Homo sapiens: one gene and its partners. The protein of the gene in region 1 interacts with the protein of each later gene in a biochemical or structural test. Each region holds a gene or a part of one and is shown in the gene's direction. Other genes may lie near its edges. The genes, in order: MAP3K11, MAP4K1 and LATS1.

Evidence for each region.
Region 2: of the proteins of MAP3K11 (region 1) and MAP4K1, one has a biochemical effect on the other in vitro, tested with the Homo sapiens proteins (one study listed by BioGRID).
Region 3: the proteins of MAP3K11 (region 1) and LATS1 form a complex in vitro, tested with the Homo sapiens proteins (one study listed by BioGRID).

The regions. Positions count from the first base shown.
Region 1 is NC_000011.10:65,600,530-65,604,279, reverse strand, and holds part of MAP3K11 (mitogen-activated protein kinase kinase kinase 11), read left to right. Parts: intron 1-3,750. UniProt on the Homo sapiens protein: Activates the JUN N-terminal pathway. Required for serum-stimulated cell proliferation and for mitogen and cytokine activation of MAPK14 (p38), MAPK3 (ERK) and MAPK8 (JNK1) through phosphorylation and activation of MAP2K4/MKK4 and MAP2K7/MKK7.
Region 2 is NC_000019.10:38,597,337-38,601,086, reverse strand, and holds part of MAP4K1 (mitogen-activated protein kinase kinase kinase kinase 1), read left to right. Parts: intron 1-933; coding exon 934-1,010; intron 1,011-1,101; coding exon 1,102-1,162; intron 1,163-3,492; coding exon 3,493-3,601; intron 3,602-3,691; exon of another isoform or gene 3,692-3,702; coding exon 3,703-3,750. UniProt on the Homo sapiens protein: Serine/threonine-protein kinase, which plays a role in the response to environmental stress. Appears to act upstream of the JUN N-terminal pathway.
Region 3 is NC_000006.12:149,683,476-149,687,225, reverse strand, and holds part of LATS1 (serine/threonine-protein kinase LATS1), read left to right. Parts: intron 1-2,633; coding exon 2,634-3,750. UniProt on the Homo sapiens protein: Negative regulator of YAP1 in the Hippo signaling pathway that plays a pivotal role in organ size control and tumor suppression by restricting proliferation and promoting apoptosis.

The DNA.
Region 1 (3,750 bases):
CTGGCCCTCAGCTCCCAGAAGCAGGGGCACAAGGGGCCTGGGCCCCATCGTTCTCAAGCTTGCCCCATGTTTTTTTATCCAAAGAATTTGTTAATTATTTATGAAGAGAAACTACTTATTAGCCCATATATTCATGAATAGTTCAGATCAGTGACAAACTTCTAAGTAATTCAACCCAAAGAAATTCTTCATATTCCAAAATCACTTTGCATTCTGAGAGATAGCAGCCTTCCTCATCTCCTCGAAGTATTTCATGGCATCATAACTTCTGTAGACATCTGTGCCCATAGAAATCTGAAATGCCTTCTTTCTTGGTCCAGCCCCTGCAAACTGAGAGAGCCGCAGCCCCCAGGGATACAGTGAATGCTCCCACAATATGAAATTGCAGATGTGTGGCCAGAAGGCCACATGTCTGAGGTTTCATGAAAGCACTGGAAACCATGGTAGTTACTGTTCTTGATAAGTATGTCGGCCTCAACACCAGTGCCCTTCCTGGCTGATGAAGAAATGGATTGCCACTTGCCCTGAAAGGATGTCAGCTGCCCAGCTCAGTGGCTGGCTGAGCATCTGGTTCCCCTAGCCCAATCCCACACTCCACGCATCATCTGGGTCCATGAAAGTACATGACATTGACCTCACAGCCACCCCCCGAAACCCAGCTAAGAATCAAATAATGGGGCTTCACAGAGGTCCCAGACCCTGTGAGATGGTCCCCGGCATAAGCCATACCACTGGAGAGTCACACACACCCTCACCCTGTCCCCAGTGGGCTGTTCTGGTCCCTGGAGAGCTGGCTGCAAGGAGTGGCACATTGGCAGGGTGCACTCAGCTACGCTGATAGCAACTGCCCTGTGAAGCTTGTTGCCTTAGAGCCAATAACTACGTGGCTGTGTCCTCCCTGTGAGACCTCACGGAAGCAGTTTCGCCTCTATCTATCTATCTTTGGGTCAAGAATAGTCACGCAGCTTTCTCCTAAACAACAGAGTTGCTAACTCTTGCTGCCAGGAAGCTTAGAGGCAGATTCAAATCCTAGCTGGATTATGTTGACCAAGTCCCTTACCCTTCAGAACCTCAGTTTCTCAGGCCATTGACTGCAGGAACTTCTGTTCACTCTCATTTTGTCTGCTGGACCCTATCTTCTCTTCCCTTTGTCTCATTTCTGTCTTTTATTTTTTTAAAGATAGAGTCTCATTCTGTTACCCAGGCTGGACTGCAATGGCATGATCATGGCTCACTGCAAACTCTGCCTCCCAGGCTCAAGTGATCCTCCCACCTCAGCTTCCTGAGTAGCAGGGACTACAGGTGCATGCCATGCTTGGCTAATTTTTATATTTTTTGTAGAGATGGGGTTTTGCCATGTTGCCCAGGCTGGGCTGCGCTTAAGTAGTCCACCCACCCCAGCCTCCCAAAGTGCTGGCATTACAGGTGTGAGCCACCACACCCAGCTTGCTCTTGCTATTTTCTTTTTTTTTTTTTAGAAGGAGTCTTGTTCTGTCACCCAGGCTGGAGTGCAGTGGTGCGACCTCAGCTCACTTCAGCCTCCACCTCCCACGTTCAAGCAATTCTCCCTCAGCCTCCCCAGTAGCTGGGATTACAGGCATGTGCCACCATGCCCAGCTAATTTTTTTTTTTTTGAGATGAAGTGTCATTCTGTTGCCCAGGCTGGAGGGCAGTGGTGCAATCTCGGCTCACTACAACCTCCACCTCCCAGGTTCAAGTGATTCTCCTGCCTCAGCCTCCCAAGTAGCAGGGATTACAGGCATGTGCCACAATGCCCGGCTAATGTTTGTATTTGTAGTAGAGATGAGGTTTCACCATGTTGACCAGGCTGGTCCCGAACTCCTGACCTCAAGTGAGCCACCTGCTTCAGCTTCCCAAAGTGCTGGGATTACAAGCGTGAACCACCATGCCCGGCCTAATTTTTGTATTTAGTAGAGACAGGGTTTGACCATGTTGGCCAGGCTAGTCATGCACTCCTGACCTCAAGTGATCTGCCCTACTTGGCCTCCCAAAGTGCTGGGATTATAGGCTTGAGCCACCACTCCCAGCCTCTCTTGCTTTTTTTTTTTTTTTTTTTGAGATGGAGTCTCACTCTGTCACCCAGGCTGGAGCGCAGTGGCGGGATCTCGGCTCACTGTAACCTCCGCCTCCTGGGTTCAAGCGATTCTCCTGCCTCAGCCTCCCAAGTAGCTGAGACTACAGGTGCGTGCCACCATGCCCTGCTAATTTTTGTATTTTTTAGTAGAGACAGGGTTTCACCATGTTGGCCAGGATGGTCTCGATTTCTTGACCTCGTGATCCGCCCACCTTGGCCTCCCAAAGTGCTGGGATTACAGGTGTGAGCCACCGCACCCGGCCAACTCTTTCTTTTTTTTAAACATGATTTCCCCTCTTCTGTTTAAACTCACTGTAAATGATCAGTTCTTCACCTGCGAAGTGGGGGTGATATGATAACCTCGTGGTTGGTGCAAGGATTATAAAAATGGATTCTTCATCAAACAAGAATTTGCTTTTTTTTTTTTTTGAGACGGAGTCTCGCTCTGTTGCCCAGGCTGGAGTGCAGTGGTGTGATTTTGGCTCACTGCAAGCTCCGCCTCCTGGGTTCATGCCATTCTCCTGCCTCAGCCTCTTGAGTATCTGGGACTACAGGCGCCCACCACCACGCCTGGCTAATTTTTTGTGTTTTTAGTAGAGACAGGGTTTCACCGTGTTAGCCAGGATGGTCTCGATCTCCTGACCTCGTGATCATCCCACCTGGGCCTCCCAAAGTGCTGGGATTGCAGATGTGAGCCACCGCGCCTGGCCCAGGGATTTGCATTTTAAGAGCCAGGCATCAACATGTTAAACACTGCCCTGACCTCATATGATGAAGCAGGCAGACTCATAAACAAGTCCAGTAGCACCTCTATGAGGCATAACGTGAGCAATAACTGTGTAGGTTCAGGGAGATTCTGGGAGGGCTTCACAGAGGAAGTGACATCCCAGTTGGTCTTGGATGGTGCATAAGAGGTCACTGAAAGCCAAGGTGGGAAAGGTCAGCCACCCAGAGTGAATAGTGTGTGCGCAGGCATGCAGCTCACCATACCCAAGGAAAAGGCAACCTGGCTGAACTCCGAGAAGAGTTGAGAGCCGAGGAGTCTCAGGACTGGGGCTGCGGACAGGGGCCAAGGCACATGGGTCAGTAGATGTTGATTGAATGAATGAGTGAATGAAGCTGGAAGTGATGGGTAGTTTTTAAGCAGAGACCTGTCTTTAACAGGTTTGCATTTTAGAAGGATTCCCTTGTCCCTTCAGTGGCAGTGGCCGGGGTGGGAGTTGGGTGAGGTAAGAGGCAGAGAGTCTGAGTAAGGGTTGGGGCTGACAGAAGGGACTGTGAGCTAAGTCCTGGTTCATAGTAGAAGCTCATTTTTCCCAGCCTTGTATTTCTCCCTCCCGACATCCAACCTGCTGCTGCACTCCAGGCAGGAGGGGAAAGGCAGAGGGACAAGGCCAGGGAGGGCTTCAGAGGACCAGCCAAGGAGGCCAGACTTTCTCCTAGTGACAGTGGAGAGCCACAGCAGTTTCTAGAGCCAAGGAGGGATCTGACAAAATCAGGGCTTGTGAGAGCCCATCCTAGAGTCCCTTGTCCTTAATGAGGGGTTCCCCATCCCTGCCCAAGTGGTCTAGAATGGAGTCAGGCCAACCCTAGACTGGAAGGTAGGACACTAGTGTCTTGAAATCTAGGGCAGAGTCTGGCTGGGAAATGGTGGA
Region 2 (3,750 bases), on another chromosome or scaffold:
CGCCTGTAATCCCAGCACTTTGGGAGGCGGAGGCGGGCGGATCATTTGAGGTCAGGAGTTTGAGACCAGCCTGGCCAACGTGGTAAAACCTCGTCTCTACTAAAAACACAAAAATTAGCCAGGCGTGGTAGCACGTGCCTATAATCCCAGCTACTCAGGAGGCTGAGGCAGGATAATTGCTTGAATCCAGGGGGCGGAAGTTGCAGTGAGCTGAGATCATGCCACTGCACTCCAGCCTGGGCAACAGAGCAAGACTCAGTCTCAAAAAAAAAAAAAAAAAAAAAAAATGGGTAGAGGGATGAGTTGGAGAGTGAAAGTAGGAATATTGGAATTCAGGGGCCAGGAGTGTCAGAATATAACAAAAAGGTTAGAGTTTGGAGCACGAGAAAGATGGACAGCTGGAGGTTAATGATAGGGAGACTGGGAGCAGCATTTTGGGGTGAGGAATTTTAGAGATTAGGATGCAGCCAGAAAGGGACAGAATCTAGAGATCAAAGAGATGAAGACAAGGTCAGTGTTAAAGGAACAGGTCACACTGGACAGAAAAAGTCCTGTTTGGGGGTGTCTGAGTTTGAAGGTCAATGTTAGGATTGGCATTAGGGTATCAGAACTGGGGAGAAAGAGGGGAGGAAATCAGAGGACTATTTTGGGGGACAGGTCTAAGGTTGGGGTCAGTTTGGTTCAGAAGACAGTTGGGCAGAGAAGAAAGAACCACCAGAATATGGGTAGTCAAAAGGAGGGAGAGTGAGACTGGCTTGCGGGACCGTCCGCTCTGGCTTTGTTTGGGGAAACAGAGGCTGGGAGTATTGGTTTGGAGAAAGAATAGAGGGTCAGAGCTGGGGACAGAGTGTCAGTGTTTGAGGTCAGACAGGTGGGGATCTGGGAGGTCCCTGAGGATGAAGTCGGTCCCAGCGTCCTTGTCTGTGCCTCCAGACCAGCACCTGCTCCTGGGGGCAGAGGAAGGCATCTTCATCCTGAACCGGAATGACCAGGAGGCCACGCTGGAAATGGTGAGGAACCATACCGGGCCAGGGCAAGGGCAAGGGCCGGAGTCGGGGGTTGCTGGGGTGTCACCAGAGCCATCTCTCCCATTCCCTGCAGCTCTTTCCTAGCCGGACTACGTGGGTGTACTCCATCAACAACGTTCTCATGTCTCTCTCAGGTCTGGCTGTGGGTAGCAGGTGGGATGGGGTCGGAAGTTAAGGGGTCCAAGGGTTCGGGGGCTGGGAAGTAGACGGGCACAGCTGAAAAAAAACTTAGACTGCTTGGTCACAAAGTCCTAGGTTCAAATCCCAGACACTTTTTGACTGTGCTCCCCAAGCCTCAATTTCTCCATTTGTAAAATGGGGTTCACAATAGTCCTCACCTCTCAAGTCAATTTTGAGGTAGTTTCTACAATAAATTAGTCTTTTTTTTTCTTTTTTTGAGACAGAGTCTCCCTCTGTCACTCAGGCTGGAGCGCAGTGGTACAATCTCAGCTCACGGCAACCTCTGCCTCCCAGGTTCAAGTGATTCTCATGCCTCAGCCTCCTGAGTAGCTGGAATTACAGGTGTGCACCACCACACCTGGCTAAATTTTGTATTTTTAGTAGAGACAGAGTTTTACCCTGTTGGCCAGGCTGGTCTCAAACTCCTGACCTCAGGTGATCCAACTGCCTTGGCCTCCCAAAATGCTGGGATTACAGGCATGAGCCACCACACCTGGCCTTAGATTAGCCTTTTTTTTTTTTTTTTTTTTTGAGACCGAGTCTCACTCAGTTGCCCAGGCTGGAGTGCAGGGGCGTGATCTTGGCTAACTGCAACCTCTACTTCCTGGGTTCAAGCAATTCTCGTGCCTCAGCCTCCCGAGTAGCTGGTATTACAGATGTGAGCCATCATGACTGGCTTTTTTTTTTTTTACTTTTTTTATTTTTTATTTTTAGTAGAGATGGGGTTTTACCATGTTGGCCAGGCTGGTCGCAAACTCCTGACCTCAGGTGATCCACCCGCCTTGGCCTCCCAAAGTGCTGGGATTACAGGTGTGGGCCACCGCACCTGGCCTAAATTAGTCCTTTTTTTTTTTTTTTTTTTTTTTGAGATAGACTCTCACTCTGTTGCCCAGACTGGAGTGCAGTGGCGCAGTCTCGGCTCACTGCAACCTCCGTTTCCCAGGTTCAAGCGATTCTCCTGCCTCACCCTCCCAAGTAGCTGGGATTACAGGCACCTGCCACCACACGCGGCTAATTTTTTGTGTTTTTAGTAGAGACGGGGTTTCGCCATGTTGGCCAGGCTGGTCTCGAACTCCTGACCTGGTGATCCACTCGTCTCAGCCCCCCAAAGTGCTGGGATTACAGGTGTAAGCCACCGTGCCCAGCCCTAAGTTAGTCTTTAAATAGCTTTCATGTTCAGATGACAATCAGAACTTATTCCATACTTTACTAAGATAGAGTGAGCAAGTTATAGATTTCAAAATCTGGACGGGGTGCAGTGGCTCATGCCTGTGATCCCAGCACTTTGAGAGGCCAAGGCAGTAGTACTGCTTGAGCCCAGGAGTTCTAGATCAGCCTGGGCAACATAGTGAGACCTCGTCTCTACTAAAAATTAAAAAAAAATTAGCTGGGTGTGGTGGCACACACCTATGGTTCCAGCTACTCGGGAGGCTGAGGTGGGAGGATCACTTGAGCCCAGAAGTTAGAGGCTGCAGTGAGTCATGATCACACCACTGCACTCCAGCCTGGAAGACAGAATGAGACCCTGTCTATATATAACAATAAATAGGCCGGGTGCGGTGGTTCACACCTGTAATCCCAACACTTTGGGAGGCCGAGGCGGGTAGATCACCTGAGGTCAGTAGTTCGAGACCAGACTGGCCAACATGGTAAAACCCCGTCTCTACTAAAAATACAAAAATTATCCAGGCATGGTGGCGCATACCTCTACTCCCAGCTACTTGGGAGGCTGAGGCATGAGAATTGCTTGAACCTGGGAGGCAGAGGCTGCAGTGAGCCAAGATTATACCACTGCACTCCAGCCTGGGTGACAGAGCGAGACTGTCTAAAATAATAATAATAATAATAAATAAATGAAATAATTTCTAGTTTTGGGGGAAACACCAAGCCAAATGGGATTCATGAGTTAGTGAAAGCCACATCTGTGATGACAAACTAGAAGATTTTCTAGATGTGTTTCTTCTAAAACTTTGTAAGATGTGTAACTTCATCTGACTGGTTATGTGTCCAGAGTTTCTGATACGGCTACAAATACCACGAGGGTAGGGAACATATTTTTTATGCTCATCACTGTTCACCAGAGCCAAGCACAGCAGGCCTGGCCTACAATGGACGTTCAATCTATGTGGAGTGAGAAATGAATGAATGAATGACAAGTACTTGAGACTTGCAGGCTTGGGAGTTTCAGACAAAGGGATGGGGCTGAGGGAAGGGATGGAGGAAAGGAAGTGGTATATGGGATCCTATAACTTCCTGCTTCCCCCTACATACACACACCCTGCAGGAAAGACCCCCCACCTGTATTCTCATAGCATCCTTGGCCTGCTGGAACGGAAAGAGACCAGAGCAGGAAACCCCATCGCTCACATTAGCCCCCACCGCCTACTGGCAAGGTACCAGCTCCCAATGAATGGCACCACACAGCCTTATAATTCCTCCCATGCCCCTCTGCCTCCTGCTGTCCTACCCCCCTTCACACCTACCTATTCTCCAGGAAGAACATGGTTTCCACCAAGATCCAGGACACCAAAGGCTGCCGGGC
Region 3 (3,750 bases), on another chromosome or scaffold:
CCAGCTACACAGGGGGCTGAGGCAGGAGAATCGCCTAAACCCAGGAGGCAGAGGTTTCGCTGAGCCGAGATCATGCCACCGCGCTCCAGCCTGGGCGACAGAGCAAGTCTCTGTCTCAAAAAAAAAAAAATAAAAATCTTGGAGATCTTGGTGAGGTTGCTACTTAATAAAGTTTAAAAACTTTTGCAGTAGGAGTAAACAGAAGAAGTAGTTGTGGTCTGGGAGTATAAGCGTATAAACCTTAAAGTAGTTATTCTGAAACAAGAGCAGATATGAGTAATACCAAAGTTTGAAATACAATCATGAGAATGATACTTGATGTGGAGTGGAAGAGGGGACGTCAAGAAGCTGAGATATGAGGGCAATAGATGGTTTATCCTCGTGGTTATTGAGGTTACAGGATGAAGGCAGGGCTTAGGGTAGACTGAATGCTGAAGCTGTGGCTGAATGAAATAGAGCAAATAGGCAGGAGCTCATTAGGTGAGAGGAATTAGTGTGGCCTCCCACATAGCATGAAGTTCAAAAGAGCTGGCTTTTTAAAAGGAATAATATCAACCTGTAAGAACAAATGTTAGAACCCCATCTTTAGGCCAGGTTATTTTTAAAGGAAACCTTAATTTCAAAGGGCTGAAAGGAAAGTAGTATCAGCAGAAGAAAACCAGCTTCAAGGAGGTGGCAGGAAAGCTTGGAGGAGAGGTTACTGATAAGGCACATTTGCTGGCTGTGGAGCCGAGTGGATCCGGAGGGCATGGTGGAAAGGTTCGGGAAGTGGAAGAACATGGAGAGCTCTGTGGGAGGCGCAGAACAACAGGGGTGACTGTATACTCTAAAAGCTGAATGAGTGACATGGTGTATTTGGCCTCAGCTGGCCTCTGAGGAAAGTGAGAAAGAGCCTGATGGCCAGAGGACTTGTCCAGTTTATCCGGAATGATAATGTTCCCCAAACATTATTTACTCACTTGCTTTTCGTCTGGCTCCTGCTTCGAGAATGTAGACCCAAAATGCTGTCCAGCCTAGATGAAAGGGAGTGTTAAACTGAACATTATGAACATTTACCACATTTTACCACTTTTTTTCTCAGATGTATTGTTAGATATATTTTTGCCCAGGATGATGTTGACCTTTCAAATTTATTAGTATTCTTTTTTGTTTTGTTTTTAATGGTAATGAGTGTTTGTATTTAGATCTCTACTTTTGTCATGCCTGGGAAGACATTCGCAAGAGGTACCCCAATACTATTGAATGGTCTTTTGTTTTTTTCTAGTGCTTACATGATTTCATCTTTAATATTTAAACCTTTAGTCTTTCTAGAATGTATATATGTATTGTCTTTATACCAGTGTATCTTGTATATTTTTCCTAAGTGGCTGGACTATTCTATTTTAAATACTTCTCTTTTTTTGGTATTGTATTTTTTTTTTTGCTTGTTTTATTGATTTGGAAATTCCGTTAAAGACAGTTTCTGTAAAATCTATACTTTATTTAATATTCAGCTAATTATAGCCTACTATCTTTTTCTGTTTTAAAAACCATATTAAAAGGCCAGGTGCAGTGGCTCACACCTGTAATCCCAGCACTTTGGAAGGCTTAGGAGGGCAGATCACTTGAGGTCGGGAGTTTAAGACCAGCCTCGCTAACATGGCGAAACCCCGTCTCTACTAAAAATACAAAAGTTAGCTGGGCGTGGTGGCGTGCGCCTGTAGTCCCAGCTACTCAGGAGGCTGAGGAAGGAGAATTACTTGAACCCGGGAGACGGAGGTTGCAGTGAGTCTGTGCCACTGCACTCCAGCCTGGGTGACAGAGTGAGACTTTGTCTCAATTTAAAAATATAGATATATATTAAAATATATTTAAAATCAGTAGAGCTATGAAAATTACAAATAGATACGCCCTTTGGCCTAATAATGCTACCTCTAATAATTTATCTACAAATATACATGCATATATATGAAATTATATCTCTTCAAAAATATATATATATTTTTTTTGAGATGGAGTCTTGCACTGTCACCCAGGCTGGAGTGCAGTGGCACGATCTCAGTTCACTGCAGCGTTGGCCTTCTTGGTTCATGCAATTCTCCTGCCTCAGCCTCCCGAGTGGCTGGGACTACAGGTGCACACCACCACGCCTGGCTAATTTTTTTGTATTTTTAGTAGAAATGGAGTTTCACCATGTTGGCCAGGCTGGTCTCGAACTCCTGGCCTCAAGTGATCTGCCTACCTCAGCCTCCCAAAGTGCTGGGATTACAGGCGTGAGCCACCACGCCTGGTCAAAAATAAATAAAATTCTAAAAGGTAAAAGGAAACCACTTAGTGAAATTTTATTTTTATAACTCTTTTTTTTCTTTTTTTGCTAAATTGAGCCAAATAACATGTATTATTACCTCACATATCATTTTTTTGTAGTGAGAATACTTCAAATTTACTCTCGGCAATTTTCAGGAGTACAATACGTTGTTATTAACTACAGTCACCATTTTGTACAAGAGATCACTTGAACTTTTTTATATTTTTATAATTCTTGAAAGAGAATTGAGTATCATTTGTAATATCAGAATTGCAAGCTAAGGTTTTCAAAAATTAGAGGTTAAAAACATGATTCTTTTTTCTCTTTATCTCTCTTATAACCATAGGGAATGTGCAGCAATCAGTTAACCGCAAACAGAGCTGGAAAGGTTCTAAAGAATCCTTAGTTCCTCAGAGGCATGGCCCGCCACTAGGAGAAAGTGTGGCCTATCATTCTGAGAGTCCCAACTCACAGACAGATGTAGGAAGACCTTTGTCTGGATCTGGTATATCAGCATTTGTTCAAGCTCACCCTAGCAACGGACAGAGAGTGAACCCCCCACCACCACCTCAAGTAAGGAGTGTTACTCCTCCACCACCTCCAAGAGGCCAGACTCCCCCTCCAAGAGGTACAACTCCACCTCCCCCTTCATGGGAACCAAACTCTCAAACAAAGCGCTATTCTGGAAACATGGAATACGTAATCTCCCGAATCTCTCCTGTCCCACCTGGGGCATGGCAAGAGGGCTATCCTCCACCACCTCTCAACACTTCCCCCATGAATCCTCCTAATCAAGGACAGAGAGGCATTAGTTCTGTTCCTGTTGGCAGACAACCAATCATCATGCAGAGTTCTAGCAAATTTAACTTTCCATCAGGGAGACCTGGAATGCAGAATGGTACTGGACAAACTGATTTCATGATACACCAAAATGTTGTCCCTGCTGGCACTGTGAATCGGCAGCCACCACCTCCATATCCTCTGACAGCAGCTAATGGACAAAGCCCTTCTGCTTTACAAACAGGGGGATCTGCTGCTCCTTCGTCATATACAAATGGAAGTATTCCTCAGTCTATGATGGTGCCAAACAGAAATAGTCATAACATGGAACTATATAACATTAGTGTACCTGGACTGCAAACAAATTGGCCTCAGTCATCTTCTGCTCCAGCCCAGTCATCCCCGAGCAGTGGGCATGAAATCCCTACATGGCAACCTAACATACCAGTGAGGTCAAATTCTTTTAATAACCCATTAGGAAATAGAGCAAGTCACTCTGCTAATTCTCAGCCTTCTGCTACAACAGTCACTGCAATTACACCAGCTCCTATTCAACAGCCTGTGAAAAGTATGCGTGTATTAAAACCAGAGCTACAGACTGCTTTAGCACCTACACACCCTTCTTGGATACCACAGCCAATTCAAACTGTTCAACCCAGTCCTTTTCCTGAGGGAACCGCTTC